Homo sapiens: one gene and its partner. The protein of the gene in region 2 purifies or fractionates together with the protein of the main gene of each other region. This does not show direct contact. Each region holds a gene or a part of one and is shown on either strand. Other genes may lie near its edges.

What was found. Proteins that work in one complex are often made in the same cells at the same time.
Region 1: the proteins of PLCB2 (region 2) and WDR36 purify together in Homo sapiens (affinity purification with western blotting, with the first as the bait; one study listed by BioGRID). This does not show direct contact.

What each region holds. Positions count from the first base shown.
Region 1 is NC_000005.10:111,109,200-111,112,853, forward strand, and holds part of WDR36 (WD repeat-containing protein 36), read left to right. Parts: intron 1-989; coding exon 990-1,104; intron 1,105-1,588; coding exon 1,589-1,754; intron 1,755-1,970; coding exon 1,971-2,079; intron 2,080-3,654. UniProt on the Homo sapiens protein: Part of the small subunit (SSU) processome, first precursor of the small eukaryotic ribosomal subunit.
Region 2 is NC_000015.10:40,290,880-40,294,533, reverse strand, and holds part of PLCB2 (1-phosphatidylinositol 4,5-bisphosphate phosphodiesterase beta-2), read left to right. Parts: intron 1-113; coding exon 114-268; intron 269-809; coding exon 810-974; intron 975-1,508; coding exon 1,509-1,608; intron 1,609-2,090; coding exon 2,091-2,195; intron 2,196-2,375; coding exon 2,376-2,470; intron 2,471-2,609; coding exon 2,610-2,685; intron 2,686-2,768; coding exon of another isoform or gene 2,769-2,883; coding exon 2,884-2,928; intron 2,929-3,046; coding exon 3,047-3,269; intron 3,270-3,350; coding exon 3,351-3,516; intron 3,517-3,654. UniProt on the Homo sapiens protein: The production of the second messenger molecules diacylglycerol (DAG) and inositol 1,4,5-trisphosphate (IP3) is mediated by activated phosphatidylinositol-specific phospholipase C enzymes.

The sequences.
Region 1 (3,654 bases), on a different chromosome or scaffold from region 2:
TCTTGATTGTATAACTATACAACATAGCATAAACATTTATGAATTTTTCAAAATAGGTCAGCTTAATGTTTGTGTTTCATTTAGGAAGATAAAATGCTTTTTAACCATAGTAATTTCCCATCTAAAATACTTTTTTTAAAAGAAATCTTTATCTAGAAAAATGTATGTATGTAAAACATATTTATGTGATGCAATGTAAATATGTCGTGACAAAGTGGTATGTCAAACTTTATGTTGCTTTGCTTAGTTAAATAAACCTTCATTAAATACTTTCTACTTAGTTTGTATAAGTCATCTGTTTAGATGTAAATTGAATTATCTCTTGGTGGATGACATCTGACTGACACACATTGGCAATCAGTTATTTCTCCAGCAGTGACCAAATATGTAGCCAGTCTCATGTTTTCAGTATAGAAAAAATATATTGACATAATATTGATATTTTAAGTATTAAAATGAGATTATATTATAGAACCTGCTTATAAACCAAATGTTTTCTCTGTAGTGTCTTATATATTTCCTTCCTAATATGTCATAATTAAAATATTTTGGGCTTTTGCTTGGCCATTCTAACTAATGGTATGTTTTTGGTTTTATGTCAGCTGTGGAAGCAGTTACAAAAGGCAAGACAAAAAGAAATTAGGCGATGGAATGTTTTAACTTTGGCTTTGTTAATAAATTAAAAATTGAAGGCTAGTCCCATATATAGTTCTCTTGACTTTGTACATTTAAATTGAGTTAACCTTAGTTATGTTTTGTTTTCTTAGATAGTAATTCTTCATACTTTTTAAAGAATGGAGATAGAATCTAGCATATATTCTTATACACCCAAATATAATTACTTTATGTTAAAAAAACTAATGAAGCAATTCATTTATTGTTCTTTTGTTAAATAAAAAGGAACAAGTAGATAAAAAAATGCTTTGGAAAGCATAAAGTGCAATAAAAATGTTAGTTATTTTGTCATTTGTGGGTTTTTTTTCTTAAAGGCAGTGGATATAACTTCTTGTGGAAACTTTGCTGTAATTGGCCTCTCATCAGGAACTGTAGATGTATATAACATGCAGTCTGGCATACATCGAGGAAGTTTTGGCAAGGATCAAGGTAGAGAATTTTTTTCCTTGTTTTTTATTAATGTAGATAGATACAAAACTAGTAGTGAAAGCTGGTATGTATAATCTTTAAGTGCTGGGCATTTTGCTAAAGTTGAAGATGGGTTATAATCAACCCTATATGGCAGATACTGCAATTGTATCATAAGGACCATGTTGAAAGAGAAAAGTCATGGGTACTTAAAGAGTTACGTGGATATTATACAGATTAATTTTTTTTCTTCTCTCCTTTAAGCAGAAAATCTTAACAAACTTTTCAAACCTATGTTGTATCGATCTGATTTCTGTTTTTTTACTCGAACAGTATTAATAATTAAGAATCTTCTTACACCCCTAAAATCCAGATTAATTTCAAGATTTTAAAGGATATTTAAGTGGCACCTTACATATTTGAATGAAGGAATCACTGTGTGTATTGTTCAGAGAGAAACACTGCCAATTCTGATTTTTTTTTTCTTTTGACATCTACCTTACAGCTCACAAGGGATCTGTTAGAGGTGTCGCAGTGGATGGATTAAACCAGTTGACAGTTACAACTGGTAGTGAAGGATTACTCAAATTCTGGAACTTTAAAAACAAAATTTTAATCCATTCTGTGAGCCTCAGTTCATCTCCAAATATCATGTTGCTACATAGGGACAGGTAAACTTTTAATGATAATGGATTTTCTCTTTGATTCTTTTGGTAAAAGTCATAAAGTCACAATTTACCAAGTGGGAAAAATCAGACTCTTTAATAAAGAACAACATTTGGCTTAATTTCCCCCAAAGTGTACTTGATTTAACAAAATTCAAGTGGAGGTGAGATTTTAGTTCAAGGGTTTTTTGTTTATTAAAACTGGTGCATTTATCTTGCTAGTGGCATTCTGGGACTCGCCTTGGATGACTTCTCCATTAGTGTTCTGGACATAGAAACTAGGAAGATTGTCAGAGAGTTTTCTGGACACCAAGGCCAAATAAATGACATGGTAAAACAAACTCTAACTAATAAAACTTGACTCATTTCTACTTTTGTTTGGGTGTGTTATCCTTTAATAGCCTTAAAATCATTATATGAGGTGGTTATCAATTTTAATTTGCAGGCTATTTTTCAAAGATTTTAAAGGAAAATTTTGAATTAAAAGTTTAATATTTTTCAGGGAGTTGATGCGATCAAATTAAAGTATAAGTTTTAGAACTCATCTTTTTTTTCATTAACTCTAAACAAGGCCAAAGTATACTTTAGAGAATGAATGATCCATTGGTATATATGTCATTCTTAACTTAATATTAAAATAGGCTGGGAGAACTCATTTCTGATTTACTATGTATGGAATGAATTAATAGTAGAAGACCATTTCCCTGGAATATCTGGTATCTGGTTTATTTTAGTTTAGTGCTATTTCTAGAGTTTACATATCTTAACTCTGAAAGGGTTTAATTAATAAAAATGTGCTTAAGTTTACTATTATGTTCTTATAATGGGATATATGATATGGAAAGAAGTAAACTAGTTTAAATAGCATATTTCATTAAAAAGAACTTTTAAAATAAATTTGTCACTTGAGGACCATATTAAGTGTATATTATCATCTTTCATCAATTGCAGATACCTTGATTTGCTTGAAAATAGAAAAAGTAAAATAAAAATAAAATCTTAATACTTAGTGACGAACCCAACAGCTGCATTTACTAGTTCTCACACCAAAAATCAGAATTTACTCCTTTCCTTCAAAATTGAAGAAAAAAAACATGGTCAGGACATTGTGTTCTGCAGATAGGAGGCTGGCAAAATTATACATCAGCAGAATTTGTTTTGACAGCATCTGTAGAAATGAGGGTGGGATTGGGTTAATTGTGCTGAAATGGCACTTTTGAAAACATCTGTCAGTGTCAAGTTGCTCTTCCTATTTCTTTTTCAAACCTTACTTTCAACTTGTATATCTCGAGTTTCCCTGCTCAGTAATAAGTTATTCCGGTTAGTCAAATCTGTGAGCATTTATAACATGACTTTACCTCTCAGAATCATTCTTTCCCATCCTTTACTATCTGTACCACCCTTCTGTAAATTGATCTATCTATAACTTGAGATTTGAGTTCCCATTGTATTACTGCAGCCTGAGGAACAAATCAACATTTACGTATCCCAGTATCATCTACTAATTTAAACTGATGGATGAACAGTCTACTACAACTGTAAACTTTAAAGTTTTTCCTTTTGGGTCATCTTTCACCTGTGATCTGGTTTGTGCCTCACAACCCTTAGGTACTACAGGCAGAGAGATCTATTATTTATCCATTTTCATAGCTAGAAAAAATAATGGGTGGCATAAGTAGTTTATTTAAATTTATTTTGAAAATCTGATTATTATAGTTTGTTTAGAAATAAAGCATTATTAAAAGAGAAAAGATTTTTAACTTAAGCTTCAAGAAAAGTAAGCCCTTATCACACACATAAACATTGTCTATAAATAAATAGAAGATTGTGATTTGAAAATTAATGCAGTACACTTTTTTAACTTTTAATAATTCATTTAAAAGTCTAATCTTTATCCAGATTCCAA
Region 2 (3,654 bases):
GGTCCACCCAACCTCCCCATTCACCAGACAGCAAAGGCTGGGAATGGAGGAAATGGAGACTGGGCACAGCCCCAGGGCTGGGCCTTCCTCACTGAGTGTCCTTGTCCCTCCAGACTTGCCCATGCAGCAGAACATGGCAGTATTTGAGTTCAACGGGCAGAGCGGCTACCTCCTCAAGCATGAGTTCATGCGCCGGCCGGACAAGCAGTTCAACCCCTTCTCAGTGGACCGCATCGACGTGGTGGTGGCCACCACCCTTTCCATTACGGCAAGGCCCTGGGGCACACAAGTGGCCGGGAGGCTGAGGTCTTGAGTAGAAGGGCACAGGAGCCCACCCCTCACTCAACTCGCAACCCCCTCCCCTGATATCCTGGAAACTTCAGCCCCAGCCAGTTCCTGCAGTAGCAAGTTGCCTTGGAAACTGCCTCCTCCTCAGCACTGGAGGCTGCCACTTGGTCCCCATGGAAACCAACGGGAAGGGCTGAGGCTGGGGTGGGGGAGGGGAGGAAGAGTGGGCAGAGTGGGGCAGCCGGAGCCCCAGGTCCTGGGGGAAGGCATTGTTCCCTCTTTGGCTAGGGAGGGAGGTGGGAGGCCCACCTCTTCCCTTCATGCTAGAAGCACCCTGGTCCTCAGAGCTTAGCTGTAACCCGTGGGCTACACAGCCTCTCTACTCATGGCCAGAGCTGAGTGAGGTTCTTCATAACACCCAAGAACGAATGCTTCAGCTCTAGGCAGCCAGGGGCCCCAGATGCTTGGGGAAGAGCCTGGGTGGGGATTTGATGCTGGTTTTCCTGGGCCCCTACCCCCAGGTGATCTCTGGGCAGTTCCTGTCAGAACGCAGCGTGCGCACCTATGTAGAAGTGGAGCTGTTTGGCCTTCCTGGGGACCCCAAGAGGCGCTATCGAACTAAGCTGTCACCCAGTACTAACTCCATCAATCCTGTCTGGAAGGAGGAGCCCTTTGTCTTTGAGAAGGTGGGGGCCAGGGCATGGCAGGGCAGAGTCTGTCTAGTTCTTGGCCTCTACTTACAGACAAGAGGAAGTAAACAAGGCAGCTCCTTGACCTTCCTCCTCCTCCTCTTCCCATCCCTCACCCTGGGCCCTCCTGTTTCAAGAGTGCAAAACCCAAGTTTACAGAAGTTTACTTGGTAGGCAGAGTGTGTGTGTGTGAAGATTAGAGGCAGAAATGTGCACTCAGGGTTGAGGTTCCCATGGGAGTCTTTTGCCCCACTGGATACCCACTGGCAAAGCTGTCAAGGGCTATCTGTGCCAGGCCCCCTCAGCCTTGGGCTGCAAATCCAGCCCTCCTCCCCTGTGTGGAACCAGCCATGGCATGTGCTGTGGGGATGTCTTTGTATATGGCCTAGAGTGTGCCCTCTGTCTGTCCTCACCAAATCTGGTGACACTCACCATGTTCTCACACTGATGCTGAGACTTCTGGAGCCAGGGAGGGGGTCAGCTTGGCTCCTCTCTCCCCTCCCAGCCTGTCATGTCCCCAACTCTCCCCAGATCTTGATGCCTGAGCTGGCCTCCCTCAGAGTGGCTGTGATGGAGGAAGGCAACAAGTTTCTTGGACACCGCATCATCCCCATCAATGCCCTAAATTCTGGTAAGGAGTGGGGTCCTTCACTGTTCCAAGATCAGCAGCAGGAGCCTGTGCACAGGGTGGGGCAGCTTCTGGGAGGGGGCCTGGAGTGAGGCCTTACCTAAGCCCTCACATTGTAAGGAGTAGGGCAGAACAGTACCTCTCCAGGAACCTAAGAGAGGCGGGAACTCTGCCCACCTAACAGAATTGCTGTAATTTTCTGAAACGGCTGGGGCAGTTTCTCAAGTAGCTGACACTTATGGGCATTTAAAATTTGCTAAGGGCTTATAATACATTCTCACTTCATCCTCACAATAACCACATGAGTAGACACTCATCCCCTCTTCATAGATGAGTAAAGTCTCAGAGAGTTAAAGTAACCTGGCTGAAGTCACACAGCCAGGATGGTGCAGTGCCAGACTCAGACCCTTGGGTCCTAGGCTGTGTGTGCACAGTGCTGGCAGGAACGGGCTCTGGCTCACTGCCTACCCTGTCCTGTCTCACAGGGTACCACCACCTGTGCCTGCACAGTGAGAGCAACATGCCCCTCACCATGCCTGCGCTCTTCATCTTCCTGGAGATGAAGGACTACATACCTGGTGCTTGGGCAGGTAGGAGCCCATGGCATGCCAGGAGCCTCGGGGTGTCTGTTCCCCCTTCCTTCCCATCAAGCCAGCTTCCAGAGTTGGGGTGGGATCCAGATGGGGCATCCTGGAGTGGGTGAGGACAGGGGAGACTTCCAGCCACATCTCCATATACACTATGTTGTAATGTCCTGTGCACCCACCCAGATCTCACTGTGGCCCTCGCCAACCCCATTAAGTTCTTCAGTGCCCATGACACGAAGTCTGTGAAGCTCAAGGAGGCCATGGGAGGTCTGCCTGAGGTCTGTGTTGCCTGCACTGCTGCCAGGGGCTCACCAGAGATTAGCCCTATTTATGGGAGAGGCTGGGGAGAGGGCCGAGTCCCAGGCTCGGGGAGAGAGGGCTGTCAAGCCACCTTCCTGACCTGCTCTCCCTACACAGAAGCCCTTCCCACTGGCGAGTCCAGTTGCCAGCCAGGTCAATGGGGCGTTGGCCCCAACGAGCAATGGGTCACCAGGTATGAGCTTCGGTCCGCACACCTACTGGGGGCACCTCCACCTCTGCACCCACAGGCACTTCCCTTTAAAAAATTTCACCTAGGGAAAGTGCGGGGCAGGGGGCACATACTGCGACTCCCAGGGGGCGGTGTGGAGGAGGCGAACGGAGCCAAGGGGCCCCCCAGAGCACCTGACAGCCCAGCCCGTGGCTCTTGCAGCAGCCAGGGCCGGGGCCAGGGAAGAGGCTATGAAAGAAGCTGCGGGTAAGGCCTGCTGAGCCCGGTGATCTCGGGGATGAGCCTGGGGCGGGTCCGGGGCTCCTTGGGGGTTGGACGGGCAGGACGGCCTGGCCGGTGTTGCGCCTCACCCGGGCCTCCGCAGAGCCGCGGACCGCCAGCCTGGAGGAGCTCCGGGAGCTAAAGGGCGTGGTGAAGCTGCAGCGGCGGCACGAGAAGGAGCTGCGAGAGTTGGAGCGGCGCGGAGCGCGGCGCTGGGAGGAGCTGCTGCAGCGGGGCGCGGCGCAGCTGGCGGAGCTCGGGCCACCGGGCGTGGGGGGCGTCGGGGCCTGCAAGCTCGGTCCCGGCAAGGGCTCTCGCAAGAAGAGGTAAGGCTCGTGGCGGTGCCCTGCCCTCTGCAGCGCGGGTGGCGCAGGATCTCAGGGCCTGTCCCCACGTGGCCTCCCCAGGAGCCTGCCCCGCGAGGAGAGCGCCGGAGCCGCGCCGGGCGAGGGCCCTGAGGGCGTGGACGGGCGCGTGCGGGAGCTGAAAGACAGGCTGGAGCTGGAGCTGCTGCGGCAGGGCGAGGAGCAGTACGAGTGCGTTCTGAAGCGCAAGGAGCAGCACGTGGCCGAGGTGGCCGGGAGGGGCAGGGCGACAACCCCACCAGCCCCACCGACCCCACCCCCCATGGACCCCATTCGCCCCTCTCACCGACCCAACCCCCTCACCGACTCCCCTCCACCGACCCCCGCCCCCCGTACTCCCTCTGAA